Linked DNA regions of Homo sapiens: all the other regions are reported to be linked to region 1. Evidence: microRNA targets listed by miRTarBase, many of them from high-throughput screens and not tested one by one. Region 1 holds a microRNA gene; each other region holds the end of a gene's coding sequence.

The links. Region 1 holds the annotated microRNA hsa-miR-4783-3p (CCCCGGUGUUGGGGCGCGUCUGC, at 3,704-3,726, opposite strand). A microRNA usually pairs through its seed, bases 2 to 8, with sites in the 3' UTR of a target mRNA and lowers its output. Matches are read on the target gene's strand: a 7mer-m8 pairs with bases 2 to 8, a 7mer-A1 pairs with bases 2 to 7 and ends in A, and an 8mer does both.
Region 2: miRTarBase lists RRS1 as a target of hsa-miR-4783-3p. Seed matches in the 3' UTR shown: 7mer-A1 at 4,265-4,271.
Region 3: the mRNA of HOXA10 is a reported target of hsa-miR-4783-3p. Seed matches in the 3' UTR shown: 7mer-m8 at 7,567-7,573.

The regions. Positions count from the first base shown.
Region 1 is chr2:127,419,843-127,425,794 of GRCh38, forward strand. It overlaps MIR4783 (microRNA 4783), which reads right to left and starts at 3,776; the gene lies at 3,695-3,776. It overlaps PROC (protein C, inactivator of coagulation factors Va and VIIIa), which reads left to right. Exons shown (of 9, transcript NM_000312.4): 2 at 80-170; 3 at 1,441-1,607; 4 at 3,075-3,099; 5 at 3,192-3,329; 6 at 3,432-3,566. The coding sequence starts at 101. LOC105373608 (a long non-coding RNA gene) reads right to left here. Exons shown (of 2, transcript XR_007087228.1): 2 at 4,858-5,952. RefSeq lists enhancers at 2,644-3,442, 3,443-4,239.
Region 2 is chr8:66,429,753-66,434,752 of GRCh38, reverse strand. RRS1 (regulator of ribosome synthesis 1) reads right to left here. Exons shown (of 1, transcript NM_015169.4): 1 at 4,020-5,000. The coding sequence ends at 4,524. It overlaps ADHFE1 (alcohol dehydrogenase iron containing 1), which reads right to left and starts at 2,249. Exons shown (of 14, transcript NM_144650.3): 1 at 2,178-2,249. The coding sequence starts at 2,236. It overlaps LOC102724687 (a long non-coding RNA gene), which reads left to right and starts at 2,387. Exons shown (of 5, transcript XR_929013.3): 1 at 2,387-2,469. RefSeq lists a silencer at 1,996-2,415 and an enhancer at 4,172-4,221.
Region 3 is chr7:27,163,884-27,174,996 of GRCh38, forward strand. HOXA10 (homeobox A10) reads right to left here and starts at 10,437. Exons shown (of 2, transcript NM_018951.4): 1 at 9,466-10,437; 2 at 6,722-8,290. The coding sequence starts at 10,423. The coding sequence ends at 8,016. It overlaps HOXA10-HOXA9 (HOXA10-HOXA9 readthrough), which reads right to left. Exons shown (of 3, transcript NM_001433944.1): 2 at 995-1,084. HOXA10-AS (HOXA10 antisense RNA) reads left to right here and starts at 5,016. Exons shown (of 3, transcript NR_046609.1): 1 at 5,016-5,110; 2 at 5,424-5,881; 3 at 7,425-8,032. MIR196B (microRNA 196b) reads right to left here and starts at 5,680; the gene lies at 5,597-5,680. It also overlaps HOXA9. RefSeq lists enhancers at 190-1,067, 2,793-3,511, 4,701-5,291, 5,292-5,882, 7,637-8,136 and 3 more.

The DNA.
Region 1 (5,952 bases):
TCATTCCGCTTCCACCTGGGGGTGCAGGCAGAGCAGCAGCGGGGGTAGGCACTGCCCGGAGCTCAGAAGTCCTCCTCAGACAGGTGCCAGTGCCTCCAGAATGTGGCAGCTCACAAGCCTCCTGCTGTTCGTGGCCACCTGGGGAATTTCCGGCACACCAGCTCCTCTTGGTAAGGCCACCCCACCCCTACCCCGGGACCCTTGTGGCCTCTACAAGGCCCTGGTGGGCATCTGCCCAGGCCTTCACAGCTTCCACCATCTCTCTGAGCCCTGGGTGAGGTGAGGGGCAGATGGGAATGGCAGGAATCAACTGACAAGTCCCAGGTAGGCCAGCTGCCAGAGTGCCACACAGGGGCTGCCAGGGCAGGCATGCGTGATGGCAGGGAGCCCCGCGATGACCTCCTAAAGCTCCCTCCTCCACACGGGGATGGTCACAGAGTCCCCTGGGCCTTCCCTCTCCACCCACTCACTCCCTCAACTGTGAAGACCCCAGGCCCAGGCTACCGTCCACACTATCCAGCACAGCCTCCCCTACTCAAATGCACACTGGCCTCATGGCTGCCCTGCCCCAACCCCTTTCCTGGTCTCCACAGCCAACGGGAGGAGGCCATGATTCTTGGGGAGGTCCGCAGGACACATGGGCCCCTAAAGCCACACCAGGCTGTTGGTTTCATTTGTGCCTTTATAGAGCTGTTTATCTGCTTGGGACCTGCACCTCCACCCTTTCCCAAGGTGCCCTCAGCTCAGGCATACCCTCCTCTAGGATGCCTTTTCCCCCATCCCTTCTTGCTCACACCCCCAACTTGATCTCTCCCTCCTAACTGTGCCCTGCACCCAAGACAGACACTTCACAGAGCCCAGGAGACACCTGGGGACCCTTCCTGGGTGATAGGTCTGTCTATCCTCCAGGTGTCCCTGCCCAAGGGGAGAAGCATGGGGAATACTTGGTTGGGGGAGGAGAGGAAGACTGGGGGGATGTGTCAAGATGGGGCTGCACGTGGTGTACTGGCAGAAGAGTGAGAGGATTTAACTTGGCAGCCTTTACAGCAGCAGCCAGGGCTTGAGTACTTATCTCTGGGCCAGGGACTGTATTGGATGTTTTACATGACGGTCTCATCCCCATGTTTTTGGATGAGTAAATTGAACCTTAGAAAGGTAAAGACACTGGCTCAAGGTCACACAGAGATCGGGGTGGGGTTCACAGGGAGGCCTGTCCATCTCAGAGCAAGGCTTCGTCCTCCAACTGCCATCTGCTTCCTGGGGAGGAAAAGAGCAGAGGACCCCTGCGCCAAGCCATGACCTAGAATTAGAATGAGTCTTGAGGGGGCGGAGACAAGACCTTCCCAGGCTCTCCCAGCTCTGCTTCCTCAGACCCCCTCATGGCCCCAGCCCCTCTTAGGCCCCTCCACCAAGGTGAGCTCCCCCTCCCTCCAAAACCAGACTCAGTGTTCTCCAGCAGCGAGCGTGCCCACCAGGTGCTGCGGATCCGCAAACGTGCCAACTCCTTCCTGGAGGAGCTCCGTCACAGCAGCCTGGAGCGGGAGTGCATAGAGGAGATCTGTGACTTCGAGGAGGCCAAGGAAATTTTCCAAAATGTGGATGACACAGTAAGGCCACCATGGGTCCAGAGGATGAGGCTCAGGGGCGAGCTGGTAACCAGCAGGGGCCTCGAGGAGCAGGTGGGGACTCAATGCTGAGGCCCTCTTAGGAGTTGTGGGGGTGGCTGAGTGGAGCGATTAGGATGCTGGCCCTATGATGTCGGCCAGGCACATGTGACTGCAAGAAACAGAATTCAGGAAGAAGCTCCAGGAAAGAGTGTGGGGTGACCCTAGGTGGGGACTCCCACCAGCCACAGTGTAGGTGGTTCAGTCCACCCTCCAGCCACTGCTGAGCACCACTGCCTCCCCGTCCCACCTCACAAAGAGGGGACCTAAAGACCACCCTGCTTCCACCCATGCCTCTGCTGATCAGGGTGTGTGTGTGACCGAAACTCACTTCTGTCCACATAAAATCGCTCACTCTGTGCCTCACATCAAAGGGAGAAAATCTGATTGTTCAGGGGGTCGGAAGACAGGGTCTGTGTCCTATTTGTCTAAGGGTCAGAGTCCTTTGGAGCCCCCAGAGTCCTGTGGACGTGGCCCTAGGTAGTAGGGTGAGCTTGGTAACGGGGCTGGCTTCCTGAGACAAGGCTCAGACCCGCTCTGTCCCTGGGGATCGCTTCAGCCACTAGGACCTGAAAATTGTGCACGGCCTGGGCCCCCTTCCAAGGCATCCAGGGATGCTTTCCAGTGGAGGCTTTCAGGGCAGGAGACCCTCTGGCCTGCACCCTCTCTTGCCCTCAGCCTCCACCTCCTTGACTGGACCCCCATCTGGACCTCCATCCCCACCACCTCTTTCCCCAGTGGCCTCCCTGGCAGACGCCACAGTGACTTTCTGCAGGCACATATCTGATCACATCAAGTCCCCACCGTGCTCCCACCTCACCCATGGTCTCTCAGCCCCAGCAGGCCTTGGCTGGCCTCTCTGATGGAGCAGGCATCAGGCACAGGCCGTGGGTCTCAACGTGGGCTGGGTGGTCCTGGACCAGCAGCAGCCGCCGCAGCAGCAACCCTGGTACCTGGTTAGGAACGCAGACCCTCTGCCCCCATCCTCCCAACTCTGAAAAACACTGGCTTAGGGAAAGGCGCGATGCTCAGGGGTCCCCCAAAGCCCGCAGGCAGAGGGAGTGATGGGACTGGAAGGAGGCCGAGTGACTTGGTGAGGGATTCGGGTCCCTTGCATGCCAGAGGCTGCTGTGGGAGCAGACAGTCGCGAGAGCAGCACTGCAGCTGCATGGGGAGAGGGTGTTGCTCCAGGGACGTGGGATGGAGGCTGGGCGCGGGCGGGTGGCGCTGGAGGGCGGGGGAGGGGCAGGGAGCACCAGCTCCTAGCAGCCAACGACCATCGGGCGTCGATCCCTGTTTGTCTGGAAGCCCTCCCCTCCCCTGCCCGCTCACCCGCTGCCCTGCCCCACCCGGGCGCGCCCCCTCCGCACACCGGCTGCAGGAGCCTGACGCTGCCCGCTCTCTCCGCAGCTGGCCTTCTGGTCCAAGCACGTCGGTGAGTGCGTTCTAGATCCCCGGCTGGACTACCGGCGCCCGCGCCCCTCGGGATCTCTGGCCGCTGACCCCCTACCCCGCCTTGTGTCGCAGACGGTGACCAGTGCTTGGTCTTGCCCTTGGAGCACCCGTGCGCCAGCCTGTGCTGCGGGCACGGCACGTGCATCGACGGCATCGGCAGCTTCAGCTGCGACTGCCGCAGCGGCTGGGAGGGCCGCTTCTGCCAGCGCGGTGAGGGGGAGAGGTGGATGCTGGCGGGCGGCGGGGCGGGGCTGGGGCCGGGTTGGGGGCGCGGCACCAGCACCAGCTGCCCGCGCCCTCCCCTGCCCGCAGAGGTGAGCTTCCTCAATTGCTCGCTGGACAACGGCGGCTGCACGCATTACTGCCTAGAGGAGGTGGGCTGGCGGCGCTGTAGCTGTGCGCCTGGCTACAAGCTGGGGGACGACCTCCTGCAGTGTCACCCCGCAGGTGAGAAGCCCCCAATACATCGCCCAGGAATCACGCTGGGTGCAGGGTGGGCAGGCCCCCTGACGGGGCGCGGCGCGGGGGGCTCAGGAGGGTTTCTAGGGAGGGAGCGAGGAACAGAGTTGAGCCTTGGGGCAGCGGCAGACGCGCCCCAACACCGGGGCCACTGTTAGCGCAATCAGCCCGGGAGCTGGGCGCGCCCTCCGCTTTCCCTGCTTCCTTTCTTCCTGGCGTCCCCGCCTTCCTCCGGGCGCCCCCTGCGCACCTGGGGCCACCTCCTGGAGCGCAAGCCCAGTGGTGGCTCCGCTCCCCAGTCTGAGCGTATCTGGGGCGAGGCGTGCAGCGTCCTCCTCCATGTAGCCTGGCTGCGTTTTTCTCTGACGTTGTCCGGCGTGCATCGCATTTCCCTCTTTACCCCCTTGCTTCCTTGAGGAGAGAACAGAATCCCGATTCTGCCTTCTTCTATATTTTCCTTTTTATGCATTTTAATCAAATTTATATATGTATGAAACTTTAAAAATCAGAGTTTTACAACTTTTACATTTCAGCATGCTGTTCCTTGGCATGGGTCCTTTTTTCATTCATTTTCATTAAAAGGTGGACCCTTTTAATGTGGAAATTCCTATCTTCTGCCTCTAGGGACATTTATCACTTATTTCTTCTACAATCTCCCCTTTACTTCCTCTATTTTCTCTTTCTGGACCTCCCATTATTCAGACCTCTTTCCTCTAGTTTTATTGTCTCTTCTATTTCCCATCTCTTTGACTTTGTGTTTTCTTTCAGGGAACTTTCTTTTTTTTCTTTTTTTTTGAGATGGAGTTTCACTCTTGTTGTCCCAGGCTGGAGTGCAATGACGTGATCTCAGCTCACCACAACCTCCGCCTCCTGGATTCAAGCGATTCTCCTGCCGCAGCCTCCCGAGTAGCTGGGATTACAGGCATGCGCCACCACGCCCAGCTAATTTTGTGTTTTTAGTAGAGAAGGGGTTTCTCCGTGTTGGTCAAGCTGGTCTTGAACTCCTGACCTCAGGTGATCCACCTGCCTTGGCCTCCTAAAGTGCTGGGATTACAGGCGTGAGCCACCGCGCCCAGCCTCTTTCAGGGAACTTTCTACAACTTTATAATTCAATTCTTCTGCAGAAAAAAATTTTTGGCCAGGCTCAGTAGCTCAGACCAATAATTCCAGCACTTTGAGAGGCTGAGGTGGGAGGATTGCTTGAGCTTGGGAGTTTGAGACTAGCCTGGGCAACACAGTGAGACCCTGTCTCTATTTTTAAAAAAAGTAAAAAAAGATCTAAAAATTTAACTTTTTATTTTGAAATAATTAGATATTTCCAGGAAGCTGCAAAGAAATGCCTGGTGGGCCTGTTGGCCTGTGGGTTTCCTGCAAGGCCTTGGGAAGGCCCTGTCATTGGCAGAACCCCAGATCGTGAGGGCTTTCCTTTTAGGCTGCTTTCTAAGAGGACTCCTCCAAGCTCTTGGAGGATGGAAGACGCTCACCCATGGTGTTCGGCCCCTCAGAGCAGGGTGGGGCAGGGGAGCTGGTGCCTGTGCAGGCTGTGGACATTTGCATGACTCCCTGTGGTCAGCTAAGAGCACCACTCCTTCCTGAAGCGGGGCCTGAAGTCCCTAGTCAGAGCCTCTGGTTCACCTTCTGCAGGCAGGGAGAGGGGAGTCAAGTCAGTGAGGAGGGCTTTCGCAGTTTCTCTTACAAACTCTCAACATGCCCTCCCACCTGCACTGCCTTCCTGGAAGCCCCACAGCCTCCTATGGTTCCGTGGTCCAGTCCTTCAGCTTCTGGGCGCCCCCATCACGGGCTGAGATTTTTGCTTTCCAGTCTGCCAAGTCAGTTACTGTGTCCATCCATCTGCTGTCAGCTTCTGGAATTGTTGCTGTTGTGCCCTTTCCATTCTTTTGTTATGATGCAGCTCCCCTGCTGACGACGTCCCATTGCTCTTTTAAGTCTAGATATCTGGACTGGGCATTCAAGGCCCATTTTGAGCAGAGTCGGGCCGACCTTTCAGCCCTCAGTTCTCCATGGAGTATGCGCTCTCTTCTTGGCAGGGAGGCCTCACAAACATGCCATGCCTATTGTAGGAGCTCTCCAAGAATGCTCACCTCCTTCTCCCTGTAATTCCTTTCCTCTGTGAGGAGCTCAGCAGCATCCCATTATGAGACCTTACTAATCCCAGGGATCACCCCCAACAGCCCTGGGGTACAATGAGCTTTTAAGAAGTTTAACCACCTATGTAAGGAGACACAGGCAGTGGGCGATGCTGCCTGGCCTGACTCTTGCCATTGGGTGGTACTGTTTGTTGACTGACTGACTGACTGACTGGAGGGGGTTTGTAATTTGTATCTCAGGGATTACCCCCAACAGCCCTGGGGTA
Region 2 (5,000 bases), not on the chromosome of region 1:
CTGTCTCCTTCAGTGCTGATTCTTTCCCCTCCATTCAGTTGTCAGCGCAGTTGCTCTATGGAATGTGTTGGGCAGAAGCCCAGAGTGCATGCTCTGTCCAATAGAAATGGCCACACATCACCCCGTGCCCTAGCCCACTTTGCCCAGATGAAACATGTGCCCAATGATGCCATTTTCCAATTTTCCAAGATTTTCATTGGAAATCTCCCACTTTTAAAATGTTTACCCTATTAGAATAATAAGCATGTGCAGAAGAAAGCACCATCTTGCTACTCCTGCTGTGGCAGTGCTGCTCCCCAGGAATTCACCCTCAGCTGTTTCCTTCTAGGTTAGAGTTTTGTTAGGGCTTCAACTGTCCTCCATACGCATGGATGGATGTGTTCCCAACTCACTCTTGAGCCCCAGAACAATACATTCAATCACCTACTGGGGTCTCCATCTGAATGTACCAGAAGCATGCTCAACTCAAAATGCCCTAGACTGAAGTTGCCATTTTCCTCCTAACACTAACTCTCCTACAATCCCTGCCTTGGTAAATGAGCCCACTGTTTACTTGATGCCCAAGCCAGAAATCTCAACTCTTCACTATTCAGATACAAAATCCTGTGGATTCTAACCAACCTCTCAGCATTTCTATCTACCCAAGGAACTGCCTCTCCGTGCATGAAGCCATTATCTTCAGGCTGGAGCAGGACAATGACCTCTAGTCCTTCCTCTTCACTCCACATTTCCACCAGAATGTGCTAACACAGTTCTGATTATGCCATACTCCCTTTTCATGCAACCATTCCAAAAACATATTCTGTGTGTGACACTGATTCCATGGGATATAAATGGTGTTGTGTGACAAAGAGTTCTATGATGACACAGGTTTACAACCAAAAATTTGAACACAGCTTTAGTATTTTTTGTAGCTTCTTGGAGCCCTGCATGTCTAATGTATATTTTGATTCTCCAAGAGGGCAATACAGCAGTAAGGAGCTTCTCAAACTTATTTGGCCATGTAATTCTTTTGTCATGGGACATTTTAAGGTATCAGTGTTTAATGGTGACAAATATTATTCAATGGCTTTCCATTATCTACAGCACACAATTCAAATTCCTTACTACAGGCCTAAGAACAAGGACTGTGAAGCCAGAGTATCTGGGTTCAAATTATGACTGTGCCATTTGCTTAGCTGTGTGACACTGGACAAATTCTTCTCCATGCCTTTATTTCCGTATCTATGAGGATGACAATACCGTGTGTCATAGGGTCAGTGAAAGGATTAGAGTTACTATTATACTGATAGTCCATTCAAAGTGTGTAAGACACTGCCGGGCTCATCGTATTAGCTATATTCTTATTCATGGTCTTTTATCAGCCGTCTTCTCCATCTTTACCTCCTCTTATAAAGGTAGGTCTACTTGTCTTTTGTGTCCTGGGACTGCATCTCCATCGCTGGTGTTGCTCTTCTCTCTGCCTGACGTTCCTCGCCAGTCCCTCGCCTTTCCTCCTACTGATCTGCACCTGTGAGCTCAAACTTTTCCATGTTTCCCAGGCAGACTTGTGCACTTGCACAGTCAGCAAGTATTTATCAGGTGACCAGGATGTACCTCACATTTCTGCTGGGAGGCAGGCGTGTCATGACATTGAATACCCTGACTCCCTGTACATGCCAGGAAGTGTGACTCTGCGACTTCTCACATCCATCCTTCCCTTCTACACCCAGTCTGCTATAGCCGGTTTTAGCCTCGTCCCCTCATCCCATTCCCCACTAGACCTCAAACTGCTCCAGAGCCTTTCATCTTTGTATCCCCAGAACCTAGAATAGTTTTTGGCACATAATATATGCCCAATAAATATGTGTCAATTGCATACATGAATTTGTCTTGGCCACCGTGCCAAGCTCTCCACTGCCTGCTACGATGTGGGACCAGGTCCTCTCTGGGCCTCAGTTTCTTTAACGGTAGACAAGCAGAGTAAAGGCTGCCTCACTGCGCCCTGAGAGGCTGCATCGCGCACTCTGTGACCTCGCTGTTCCGCCTGGCGCGCGGTGGGAGCCCAGGGCGGTATCCAAATTCTCCGAATTCTTGAAAGTAAGCGGAGAAGACTGCGCAGGATCTGAGCGGGTCACACCCAGGGGGCTGCGTGGGCACCCTGCGGTCCCCTGCCCGCCCGCCGGCCCCGCACTCACGCTGCGCGTTGCAGTTGCCTCAGCAAGTACGCGACCCGGGCTCGGGCGGCAGCGGCCATGGCGCTTGGAGTCCTCTTCCCTCCTCGGGTCGCTACACCGCCCCCTCCGCCGGCCAATCACGGAGGCTGCCCGCCTCCCGCCCCTCGGCCGCGCCTGCCCACCCGCTTCGCGGGGTCACCTGTCTAAGCCTCAAGCCAGTCGGGCTCAGGGCCATTTTCCCACGGAGTAAGAACCAGAACGCCAGCTGCCCCAGCGGCGCTCGCACCATCCACCCTTGAAATTGCCGTAGAAGGTAACTGCTCCGTAGGCCTCGGGTTCTGCCTTAAATCTCCTTACTTATCAACTCTATTTTTCACATGTTGAGGACTTGGGGGAAGGAAGAGGAACAGGGATATTCTTTTTCCACTGTTAATCCTTTAAAATGTTACTTTCCCTTCTAAGAGTATTTTAAGTGATCAAGACCCTGCCTTTAAACTGTTTTAACAGTAAACAAGAACCTAGCAGAGCCCGAGGGTTTTTGTTAAATACTGTGTGAATGGCTTTGCTTTTGATGAAAGCAAAATCAATAGTTAAAACTCTTACATCAATAGTTAAAACTTGCCATGATTAGACTATGCTCCGGGAGGGCTTGGCTGTGCCATATCTGCCATGTCCCAGTGGAAAAGCTGATTAACGATAAAGCTCAACTTTATCAGAAAGTATCCAAAGACAGTAACAACTAAACATTTGCATTTTTAGTAATCTGTTATTATGAAATCTGAATCCTTTATGGGAGATATTAAGTTTTACAGAAATGAATTTACTGCGATCAAACTGGAAAAGATTGATGGACAGGAAGACCAAGGACAGCTATATAAACATTTCACCTCCTAATCAAACCAGCTCAGGCCAACTTGACAAATGAATCAAAAAATAATGTTCTATGAGAACACATGTACACAGGGAGGGGAACAACACACATTGGGGCCTGGGGGCAGGGGATAGAAGGGGGCAGAGGGACTTAATACTTAGGTGATGGGTTGATAGGTGCAGCAAGCCACCACAGCACACGTTTACCTATGTAACAAACATGCACATCCTGCACATCTACTCCGGAACTTAAAAAAAGATAATAATGTCCTAATTAAGGATCTTATGGGTCTGTTTCTTTCTTCCCCCAAACAAAACTATACCTGACGTCAAGCTTAAAAACAAACACACACACACAAACAACTGGGGATATAAACGTAGAGAAAGATTTAAGTGTTTTCTGGATTAATGAGGATTATTACCATTAGTCAATGAAGCCCAAATTGATCATTTACAGGAAATCCATGTGTTCAGTGTTGAAAGGCATAAAATCTTTTTAAAAAACAGACATCAGTTTTACTACTTTGAATATTATATTTGATACCAAAAGAAGTATAAGTTTAGAAGTGGTATCACTGAAACCATTATAATTGAACTGCTTTTTTTTTTTGAGATGGCCCCTTCCTCTGTTGCCCAGGCTGGAGTGGAGTGCAGTGGCGTGATCTGGGCTCACTGCAACCTCCGCCTCCCAGGTTCAAACGATACTCCTGCCTCAGCCTCCCAAGTAGCTGGGACTACAGGTACCAGCCACCGTGTCTGGCTAATTTTTTTATTTTTAGTAGAGATGGGGTTTCACTGTGTTGGCCAGGCTGGTCGCGAACTCCTGACCTCAGGTGATCCGCCCGCCCCGGCCTCCCAAAGTACTGGGACTCTACAGGAGTGAGCCACTGCGCACGGCCTGCTTTGTGTTTTTCAGAAAGTAAACAAAAATAATCTGTACCAGGTATCCAGGTAACCGGCTTCAAGTACAATTTCTACCCAGTAGTCAGAAAGTTAAAAGTCACACTAGATAAGACATCTTTATTACTTAATCTTTAAAACAGTCACTTGCCTATTCAATTCTGAAACTGTTTGTTTTCTTTCCCTCCCCCGCACTCCCGCTCTGATACACAAACTTGTTGTAAAAATAATGCAGAAACATATACGTCAATCTAAGTCTCTGAAATATGGCCAACTCTACCTCGCCGTATATCCAACATTAAAAAGAAAAAAAAAGGCTGTTTAAGAATAGAACTCATTCCCGGTTTCCACCAAATTATTTCCCTAATTCTTAAATCCTCAAATAAGTTCTTAATCTCCAAAGTCTCGGTTGTGGGAAAAACATTAATTTGTGCAGTCCAACACTTACATACTTTCTTGACGGAAGGGCAATCCTGTCCCTTTAAACTCAATGAAGGCAGCGGCCAGGTCCTTCTGAGTCCCCGTATAATTGCCTAGAACTTAACATTTAGTATTCATAGTCCTTGGTTTACAGACGGGTCCGACAGTTAGAAACTATTACTTCCTCCTCTTTCCTCCTGGGCGCTGTCCTCCTTTTCTCTTGCCACCCAAGCCAGGCGGCCCAGAATTCATCTTGCCTCCCAAGCCCCCTTTCCTCTTCCCTCCCTGGCTGGGCGGGCCCCCTTTCCTCTTGCCCCCAGGCCCCTGCCGGCCTCCCTTTCTCTTGCCCTTCTGGCTCATTTTCCTCCTCTTGGCGGCCTCCTCCTGGTCCTCCTCCCTCATCTGCTTATTGGTGGCCCTAGTCACATCCAGCTGAGGCTTCTTGCTGTTCATGACACGAAGCAGCTCCAACTGGTTCTTTTTCTCGGCTGCAAAGTCCCCGAAAAGGGGTTGAAACTTCCTTTTCTTGCCGGAGCCCCGGGGCACCTTCTCCTTGGGGAGGCGCTCCTGAAAGCGCCCCACAGAGGCGGTGGAGACCTTGGCCACTTGCATGGCGCGGCCCAGCTCCTCCTTACTCTGGTGTCCGGTAGGGTG
Region 3 (11,113 bases), not on the chromosome of region 1:
CATCCCGCTGGGGCAAATGAGCCTCCTGCATGGGGTCTCTGGCCGAAGTGCAGAACTCTGCTGAACTGGTTAGGAAAGGCAGTCAGGCCTCGGACACAATGGAACCCTGGCAGACAGACGCACAGACAGTCACTTAAAATTGCACGCAGTAAAACTTTGGCTCGCCCTCCCCTCCGAGACCTTCCTTTCTCCTACTCTGTCCTCTTGTCCCCCTTCTCCTTCCTCCCACTCTCAAAACGCTGTATAGAATGAAATTTGGAAACAGGTCTCCTTGCCACGCAGAGGGAAAGCATGCTGCCTTGTGTTCTGTAGCAAGATTAGGATTCCTCTGTCCCGTTCACTGACTTCGTCTTTCTTTCCCAACCTGTCCCTCTACGCCCCCCACTCCTTATTTAACCTTCCTGGAAGGCCTTCGGAGCTGGGCAAGCCGTCAGGGCGCCCTAAGGCCGCTGATCACGTCTGTGGCTTATTTGAATAATCTGTCATGGGGACCCTTGTGGCCCGGGTCGCCCGCAGCCTCATCTTGGCAGGATTTACGCCGCCACTGGCCGAAGGCAAGAAGTGGAAGGAATCGGCCGTCTCCCCCAGCGTCCCAGCTCCGGCTGCCCTGGCTGCCGCCGCTCACGGACAATCTAGTTGTACAAAAGGCTCTCTGGGCTGCACTGCTTTCGAAGAACGGCCCAAAGTATCTCGGTCCTGGGCCTGGGCAGCCAAGGAGAGGGGCGGCCAGTCTTGGCTCGTCCCGAAGTGCCCGCCCCGCCCCCTCTCGCTGCAGCAGCCGCCTCCTCTCCCGTAGCCCTGCGGGCCGCTCTTCACTGCTCTCCAGACTTGGGGCCCTATCTGAGGCGTCCCAAACACCAACTTCTGGCTCCTGGCCCCAACTCGAGAGGCTTCCAGCGAGGACGAAGGCAGGCTCGAGAGAAACCTGGCGGGCCAGCAGATCCGGGAGGCCGGCGTGGAGGCGGCGGCGGATTTGAAGGGAGGAGACACTTACTGGGATCGATGGGGGGCTTGTCTCCGCCGCTCTCATTCTCAGCATTGTTTTCAGAGAAGGCGCCTTCGCTGGGTTGTTTTTCTCTATCAACTGGAGGAGAACCACAAGCATAGTCAGTCAGGGACAAAGTGTGAGTGTCAAGCGTGGGACAGTCACCCCTTCTGGCCGACAGCGGTTCAGGTTTAATGCCATAAGGCCGGCTGGAGGGCAAGCCCGCGAAGGAGAGCGCACCGGGCGTGGGCTCCAGCCAGGAGCGCATGTACCTGCCGTCCGGCGCCGCCGCCGCCACGGGCGCCTGGGGGTGCACGTAGGGGTGGTGGTGATGGTGGTGGTACACCGCAGCGGGTACAGCGTTGGCGCCCGCCGCGTGCACTGGGTTCCACGAGGCGCCAAACACCGTCGCCTTGGACTGGAAGCTGCACGGGCTGAAGTCGGGGTGCTCGGCCAGCGTCGCCGCCTGCCGGGGAGGCTGGCCCAGGGTCCCCGGCGCATAGCGGCCAACGCTCAGCTCATCCGCGGCGTCGGCGCCCAGCAGGAACGAGTCCACGTAGTAGTTGCCCAGGGCCCCAGTGGTGGCCATCACCGTGCCCAGCGCCTGGCCCGCCCGGCCCGACCCACGGAAATTATGAAACTGCAGATTTCATGTAACAACTTGGTGGCACCGGGGGGGAAGTACAGTCACCTAATAAGTTGCCGGCGCCCGCGCCCCCATTGGCCGTGCGCGTCACGTGCCCGTCCAGCAGAACAATAACGCGTAAATCACTCCGCACGCTATTAATGGTCCGATGTTTTGCAGTCATAATTTTTATAGCAAAAGCCATATGTTTTTATGTAAAGGGATCGTGCCGCTCTACGATGGGGTTTGTTTTAATTGTGGCCAACGACGATTAAAAGATCAAATCTAGCCTTGTCTCTGTACTCTCCCGTCTCCCCCCCCATACACACACTTCTTAAGCGGACTATTTTATATCACAATTAATCACGCCATCAAGAAGGCGCGGGTCCCGCGTGCGAGTGCGGCCAGCGGAGCCCCTCACATAAAATTAGACAATAATTGAAGCCATAAAAAAGCAGCCAAATCGCATTGTCGCTCTACTGTATTTAAATCTATATTTATGATATTTCATAAGGAGTTATTGTTTCAGAAGCCACACAGGCTGGCGGGAAGTCGGAAACGACCAACAGATTCGTTTGCCTCGCCGTGGCTCCCAGCTGTAAAAATTTACGAGGACTTGGAAAGGTTAGACTGTTGTGTTTGGTTGGCGAGCTCCCTGTAAATAATCCCTGCGGTCCCCGGGAGAGGCGAGTTTACCCGCGGCCGCCCTCGAAAAGTCAAATTCAACGCAGGATCCGTCCCAAACGGAGCCGCCGCCGGCCCTACCAGGGCACTCCAGGCAGGGACCGGCCGCTCAGGGAGTACCGCGGGTGTAGGTCCCCACAGCTACCCGCCTGGAGCGAGGGGCGCCCGGGCAACCCTTAAATTCGCCTTTGCTACGAGGACCCCACGGAGGAGCTGGCCAGGAGGGAGCGGCCAGCCGCCACCAGGGCGAAGGTTTTGAGGGCCTGGTTGGTTGTGCGGCGCGCTCGGTCCCCGGCCCTCGACCCCACGCACACGCGCGCCCAGCCCGCCTTTCTCATCAGCTGGCAATCAGGATTCCCAGGCGCAGGCGGCTGGCGACCCAGCCCTGTGCTCCAGCCTCAGAGGCTCTAACCATGAGCGCTGCAAGCCTGGTTGCGCTCCGTGAATCCCAGCTGGGGAAAAAACTACAAGTGGCATGAATGGAAGGCAAGTTCGGTTTGGGAAAAGGCAGCCTCGCCTAAGAGACCCCGCAGCTCCGGAACCTGGGAGGCCCGCACCGATGTGGCCTGTCCCGGGGCCGCGTGAGCCTTTCAGGGCTCCTTCCTCCCTTTCCAGCTGCTACTCCGGGCCTCGCCTTGGTTACCTACGGGGCCCGGAGACTCGGCGGAGAGGTACAAGGCCCAAAGAGAGGCAGCCACAGCTCAAGGCCAGGGCTGGAAATTAGAACGGGGAGGGGTAAAAGGGCATCGACTCCAGTCCCATTCCTGGGCCTGGCCACGTTGGGGAAGTTTATTTCTCACCCGTTGGGGGTAAATTAAAAGGTCGCCGCCACTCCGTTAATTGGAAGGAAACTCCCCCTGCCCCCAATTCCTAACAGAAAGCAGCGACTCCTAGAACAGGGGTAATCAAATTCACGTGTGGATACTGTGCCTGCAACAGTGTGTTTTTCATTAGCCCACTTCCCTGGCGGCGAGGCTGGCGGCCTCGGGCGCTTCCATCTCTCTCTCTCTCTTTTGCCTTCATCCTCACCAGCAGTTCCAGTAATCCCCCCCTCAAACACCCTGACACACTTCCGGCTGGGACTCCCAAATACCAGCGAGGCTGCCAAGCCGCGCGGATACCGACTGGGTGCCCCTTCCTGCACCCGCGCCTGGAAGAGGGAAGTGGCCGACACAATGAACTCCGAAATGGCCCCGTCCTGTCCGCCTCATCTCCCTCCCCCTAATATTTTCCTTGCCCCATAAATTCCTCTAGGTCATGCCCACCCCCACCACAGTCCACCGTGTCCTAAATACCCCGCAGTCCGCCAGGCCTCTGAGATTTTCATTTAAAAAATTAACCCTGGAGGAAACCCTGGCTCCCAATTTTAAGTGTCTGCAAATGGGCTGGGCATGTCTGGATGCCTTTTCCACGTTTTATGCCTGAGAAGACACTGATTATTTCAGTATTTTTTAAGTAAAAAAGCTGTTCCTTTAAACAGCCTTAGCCCCAAAATAAGAGAGTTACTGAACAATTAGCAGGCGTTGAGTGTTAAGCAGATGTTACTGGTGCCTAGAAAGCGGAGAAAAATCAGAAAACCAAATATTGTCTTCCTTCAGCCCAAAGGTTTGGAGCCAGAATAGTCTGACTTTTTTGTCTGCTTTTATTTTCGAAGTGAAAGAGATTGCGTATGCATAAAGAAATAATAAATGAGTATAATTTAAAGCGGCCCCTTCTCGACTGAGATTTCTGAAACTGTGATCTCTGAAATAAATCCAATGCCCTGGTCCAGAAAATGGCAGGGAGGAGTTGAAGGGAATGGGGTGTGTGGTCCTTTCAGACAGCAGGTCGGTGGCTGTGCAACGAAAGAGTTCCTGGGCCTCCAGTCCAGGCAGGGAAAGGAAACAGCTTTGTGGGCACGAATCTGTAACTGTGTGTGTTGGGAGTAGGGAGAGATAGTTTGTTTTCTGTTTTCTGTAGGGAAAATGGTCAGACTGGCTCCCATCTGTAGACTACAATTTGGAACGATGACTCAAGTTTATATCAATGGCTCTGGAATTTGGGATTCTTTTTGCCCATTTAAAACATACTGGCTCTTGGAAGGGTCCCCTTCTCCAGCACCCAGCTGCACAAAGGTGCTGTATGGAACATATTTTGTACCTAATGGAAGCCACTAGTAAGCAAGCAGTCAAGCTTTGCCCTAGCCAGTCTCCCTCAATGCGGTCAAACCCCAAGCTGTGACCGGCAGGCCGGGAAGAGCCAGCTAAGAGCTTCCCAGCGAATGGCCAGGCTCCAGCGAGGCTGGTTGGGCCTCAGCTCCAGTCCCCAGTGAGGCTGGCGAAGGCCTCCCTGCCCTCGATATGGGCACACAAAGCTGCAGCGAATGTCCCCTAATCAGATCTCCTAGTCAGCCGTTAGCGACAGGCGAAGAAACGCAAGGCTGCCGCCATCCGGTCGTGATCATAACCGAGGCCTTGTCTGCAGAGTAACACACCAGGCCCAAACCCACCGCCCTCGGCAGCCGCCCCACGCGGGCCCTTCCTCGGCAGACTTCCCAACCTCTACTTGAGCCGCAGAGGAAAGTGAGACCCCCTAGGCTCTCCTGAAGCCAGCTCTGGGCCCCTCCCCAAGGATGCTTTGGGAAGGAGATAAGGAGGTGAGATAGAATCTGGCAGAGACGGAAGATGAAAAAAAGACCAACGGAAGAAAAGAAAGCAGGAAGGAGCAAAGGAAAGAAGAAAAAAAGAAAGAAGAGATAAAAGAGGAAGGGAAGACAGGGAAAAGAAGGAAGAAAAGAGAGGCGACTCCTAGCAGCGGCCGAGCTTACAGAGAGAAGGGTAAGTGACAAGGCCAGGATCCCAGCCTGCCCTATCCTTCCTAGTCCAGCCTGAGTCTCCACTGGAAGGAGGTTCTTTCCTGAGCTCACACCCGGGACTGGTGTGTGTGTGTGTGTGTGTGTGTGTGTGTGTGTGTGTGTTCCAGCCTTACAAGAGAATGGCAGGAGGTCCCTGGGCAGGCGCAGGCCTCCAGTGGGAGGCTCAGGATGGAAGCGGGCGCCCCTGACCTTGAATGGCCCAAAGCCCAGAATTCCTACCACGCCCCCGGCGTCCGCGAAGGAGCAGCCAACCTAACCCTACCTGCTGTGACCAGGTGGAGGTGTGTGGTGGAAGGGGAAAGCCGGCCGGCTGGCAAAGCGCTGCGGAGAAAGACACGAGGCTCCTGAGCAGGGAAAGCCGAGGTTGCCACCGCAGGCCTGGCACGACCAGGGCCGTGATGCCCCGCCCGGCCCGACCCCCGCGCGCAGAGGTACCTGGAGACGATTTCAACTGAAGTAATGAAGGCAGTGTCGTGCTGTCGAGAGAAAGGTGGATCCCAACAACAGGAAACTACCTAAATCACCGACCAGTTCTGGTGCTGCCCGCGAAGGGCTGCCTCGCCCGCCGCCGCCGCCGCCTCCGCCGCTGCCGCCGCCGCCAAGGAGAGAACCCTGCCATCGCGCCTGGCCCGGCCCAGCCCAGCCCCTAGGCAACCTGCGCCCGCCAGTGCAACAGAGTGCCCCAGGCGGCCGCAAATGCGTCAAGGAAGGGGAAGCCACAGGCCCCAGTAAGGTATTCCTGGGAGGGAGAGGGAGGAAAAGAGAGGGAGGAAAGGCAGGGAGAGAGGAATAAAGGCGGGGAGCAGGCGAGACGAGAGCAGCTCCGAGAAGCAGTGTGCGCGCCGCTTTCCCAAATCTTGCAGCCCAGCGAGCCGGCGCCAAGAGGCGGTAGCCGTGGAAGGCTCGAAAGCGCCAGGGACGGTACAGATCCCGGCTCCCTGTCTGGCCCCGGCCTCCCGCCTCTCGCTCTCCCCCTCTCCCTCCTAGCTGCCCGCCCGCCGGGGCGCGCGCTCCTGCGCCCCCTCCCCTTAGCCCCCGCCCCCCCCACTCTGGCAAGCAGGAAACGCGTGGCCCTAAGGAGTGCCGCCAGGTGGGGGAGGCCGTACTGGGGGAGGGGGAGGCCCCCATGCAGTCCAGCCCGGGTCCACCTAACCGCTGCCTCCAGCGGCTAGAGATGCGCTGTGGGCCAGGCCTGCTCCCCGATTCAGATTGAGGGTCATCTGTGACCCAGACACCCGCAAAATAACCGGCCTCTGCAAGCCTCCCTGGGGCTCCCGAAAGAAATCCTGTTTGGCTTCCTCTGTCTATGTAGCTCCCCTCTCAACTGAAATCACTGGTCCAAGACAGCCACAATCCAGATATACTAGCAAGCCATAAAACTGAACAAAAGCCGACAAACCTTACGGCACCAGGGCTATAGGGCCCAGACAAATTACGACCGTCTAGGTAATATTTAAATAGATGCCTAAAGTAATTGCAGGGGCTCGGGTTAGTCCTCCTGTTGTAAAAGTGGTGAACGGGATAAAGTGGAAGGTGAAGATAAGAAGTCAAAAAAGAGGTAAAATTAAAAAGCTTCATTCCACAGCTTTTATTCTATAAGAACATAAACATCGTCTTTTTCCACGCACAGCAGCAATACAATATTAATTTATTCTGATTTAAGATTAGAAGTAAATAGAGCTAGAACTAACATTTATAATAACGATAGAATGCATTTGCTTAAAACAAGATTGGCAATTCTTCATAATAATAGACATTTATACAGATTTGTATTTATAGTTTTTTTCTTTTTCTGCATCTACAGGTTTGACCCTTTTATGCATGTAACTTCACAGTATAAAGGAAATCCAAACAATGTCTCCCTTCTCTAGTTTATTCCGCTTACCCCAGTCCTCCTAGGCTTCTGTGAATTTCAGAAAGCAAAAACAAACAAAAAAAAAACTTTTTGTTCAAGGCGATTTAAAAAAACAACTTCACAAGATAGGGAGAATTGTGGTGTGCTTGTCACATGTTACCAGTGGTAACAATTTTAATGACAAAAAAATCCACTAATTCCAAATGCATAAACAAAACTACATTATTTATCTACAGCCAGAAGGATATGGAAATTTAGAGGTAAATGAAACATTTTAGTCAGGCAATGTAAGACCTTACAGAAACTGGAAGAGAAGTCCCCTTCTCTTGGTAATTCTTTTTTTTTCTTTTTAAAGCTGGGATATCTTACAGAGGAAGGAAAAATTAACCTTTTTTACTTTCTTTCTCACTTTTTAAATCAGCCAAAGTCAAGCCCGTTTGCCAACCTGCATGTCCATGCCTGTAAGCCCTTCTCTTGGCCAAGGAAGAAAGGAAGAAAGAAAAAAGAAACCCAGGGGCCTGTATCCCCTGATTAAACACAGCACAGCACTCCAGGCAGACATGCCCGGTGGCGGCTCCTTTGCACCATTGACCTCAGGCCAGACACCTCAGCGCCAACAATGGGACCTCGGCCTTCCGGCTAGGTTTGCCCCAGGCTGGGCAGGAAACCAGCTCGGCCGAAGACAGGGGCCATTTCGAGCAGTGGGACCCCAAGACAGCAAACCCAGCCCAGTCAGGACTTGACACTTAGGACAATATCTATCTCTATAGAATTTTAGCATGATATGGCTTTTTCCCCCAGAAAACAACAAATAAACCAGCACCAAGCAAACACAAAGAAACAAAAAGTCAGAACAAACCAGCCCTGCACAGATGTAACGGCCCAGGAGATGGCGAGTGTGGGAGGGAGGAACAGGGCTCCAGCACAGGTGCGAGTTCCTGGGCAGAGCCTGAAGACAGAGGGAGGGGACCAGCGCTCGGGAAGTGAAAAAACCGCGTCGCCTGGAGATTCATCAGGAAAAATTAAAGTTGGCTGTGAGCTCCCGGATCCGGTTTTCTCGATTCATTTTCTTCAGTTTCATCCTGCGGTTCTGAAACCAGATTTTCACTTGTCTGTCCGTGAGGTGGACGCTGCGGCTAATCTCTAGGCGCCGCTCTCGAGTAAGGTACATATTGAACAGAAACTCCTTCTCCAGCTCCAGTGTCTGGTGCTTCGTGTAGGGGCAGCGCTTCTTCCGACCACTCTTTGCCGTGAGCCAGTTGGCTGCGTTTTCACCTTTGGAATTGCCTGGCATGTAAGAGAATAAAGAGGGGATGATTAAGTCGAGGCCACACGGGCTGCCCGCGGGGGTGAATTGCCTCCGTTTCTCCCATAAGAGAGATGTCCCAAGTCACAGAGAAGAGAGTCGTGCCCCCGTTTTTGGCTTGCTGAGAGCAAGCAGTTCCTCCAAAAGTCATGACAAAAATTGAGTGGGCCTTCAATCTACATGACCCTTCCAATTTACATTTCCCCCACTTTTCCAAACACCTGTTTTAGCGCTAAGCCGTAGATGCTTGCAGAAGGAAAGGCCTGGGAGGGCAGGCTGTACATCTTGAACTTAACGCTTTTCTTTGCCTCTTGCCATATGGCAGACAAGCATTTCCTGTAGCCCCCAGGCTAGGAGCGCGGGGTGCTTACTTGGAAGATGGGCCAGGCAGCTTGGCTGTCTCACCCCAGGGCCCTGATTGCCCAAGACTCGATAAGGGGAGAAAGAAGGGCATCATTGGTCCAATGGGGAAGGCAGGAAAAACCGATTCGGGGGTCAAGGGCCCTCCCTCAAGTTTCTCCAGGAGCCAGGGATAGATAGCTGGGCGATTCCGAGGTCCAGGGGAAGGGAAATGGCCCTTCTCTGGCTCTCAGCTCAGGGCCCCCCGCTTCCAGGCCGGATTTGCCTTTTCTTCTTCCCGCAACGAAGATTCCCGCCCCTCAGCAACTTTGAAAAAAGCATGGGGGATCGTAAACTCGAACTTCGCCGGTTAATGGGCTTATTTATTGGCGCTGGCGGCTGCTTATTTTGGATGCCTTACAAACATCCGCGCTATCTGCGGGCGAGCTACTTTCCCTCCCTCCCCCTCCCCCCGCGTGGGCCGCGCCGCGCAGGCTGGGCAGGGACCAGGGCTCTGGGTCCTCCCGGCCACAGGAAAGAGCGCACAGGAGGGGGCCTGCTCGCTGGTGTCCTCGTCCCTAGTCAGGGGGAGCTGAGGCCAGCGCCGAGGACGTCTTGCTGTGGGGCGCTAAGCCGGACATGAATTTTACTGCGTCCCCACGCCCAAATATTAAAAAGCAAGTTCACAAGGTCAGCCTGCCTGCAGCTTGGGCCAAGGCCGGCCGGCTGCTGCGCGGGCTCCTAGTTTTCTGATCCTTCTCCTCCTTGTGTCTGCCTGTCTGCCCGCCTGACTGCAGCCCTCTGCAGCCCTGCTTACCCAGGGAATCCTTCTCCGGCGAGGCTTTGCTGCTCTCGGAAGGGGCCGGGGAGAGCTCCTCCGCGGCCGAGGACGACGCGTGCGCCTCCTCGTCGCCCTGCGAGCCCCCGCCGCTGCCGCAAGCCAGCGTGGGGGGCGGCGGCGAATCGAGGGCTCGCTCCTTCCGGGCCGCATCGGCCGAGCCGGAGGCTAGCGCGGGCGGGAGATCGAAACCGCGCCCCGGGGGCTGCGCGGGGAACGGGCCAGCCCCGAGTTGCTGCGCGCCGCCGCCGCCGCTGCCATAGCCCTTGGCGGTGCCGTAGGCCTGAGAAAGGCGGAAGTAGCCAGGCACTGGCACCCCGCTGGAGGTGCCCAGGGCGCAGCCGTCGGGCGGCGGGCCCCGCGGGAAGGGAGCCAGTTCGGCGGCGGTGGCCGAGACTTTGGGGCATTTGTCCGCCGAGTCGTAGAGGCAGTAGGAGCTCTCTTCTTTGATGTTCTGCGCGAAAGAGCACGAGGTGGCCTGCGGCGCTGGCTGGGGTGGTTGCGGCGGGGGCGGCGGCTGCTGCTGGGGCGGCGGCGGCGGCCCGTCAGGCGGCTCCATCCGGCAAGACCGGGGCGCGTCTAGCCACAGGTCTATGGGCGAGGGCCCGTAGCCGTGCGCCCCGGGACCTAGACCCCCGCCACCGCCACCGCTGCCCGGCGACGCTGCCTCATTGCGCTTGCCGCCCAGCGTGGGGAAGAGCCCGCAGCTCTGCAGCCCGTAGGGCAGGTCGGCGGCGGGCGGCAGGTAGACCCCGCCGTGGGCGTAGTAACCGCCACCGCCGCCGCCCCCCGCGCCACCACCACCGCCGCCTGCCTCGCCTCTGCCCGAGCTGATGAGCGAGTCGACCAAAAAAGAGTTCGCGGCGGGGCTCTCCGAGCATGACATTGTTGTGGGATAATTTGGCGAAGGGAGCAGATAGCCCTTTCTGGCTGACATTTCTTGTGCAAAACATGCTGAATACGATTAGCAATCCCCCCGCACCGCGGCGGGCGCCCGCAGCCAATCCCGAGCCAGAGTTTCCGCGCGACCACTCCCAGTTTGGTTTCGTAGGCGCGGGGCCGCTCTCCGAGGGCGCCCTCAGAGCCCGCGATTGATATAAATATGTAATCTGTATTGATGGGCCAGGAGACGCACCCCGACACCTTGGCCCGAAGGCCGGGAGCTGTGGGGGCTGCCCCAACGTGGCTGGTGGGGGGCCTGGCCATTGGGCTCGCCCCGCCCCTACCCGGACGTGAGCCCCATACCGGGGTCCCTTAGAAGGGCCCTTGGGCCCCGCGCAGTTAACAAGTGGGGTGTTTATGGTGCGCGCCCAGTCTGCCTTGGGTGCTCACCATCCCTGTCGCAGAAGCTGCCACTAGTCCCCGGTGTACTCTAACCACTGAAGCGGCCGTGTCGGGGACTCACGCGCTTCCCATTCAGCTCTGGATCTGGAACTGGCCCCTTGTCTGAATTCTGCCTCCTCAAAAGTGGCGAACCTGGCCCTATGGCCGTCAGGATCCTCAGAGTGTCAGGAGCCCAGAGTGAACTAGAAGCTGACTTGCCTCTACTTCCAGTATCCACAGATTTTTCCCCAAAATGCAGTGGTTGTTCCCTAGCCCCTAACCCCCAACACTTTTCTCCCCTAGT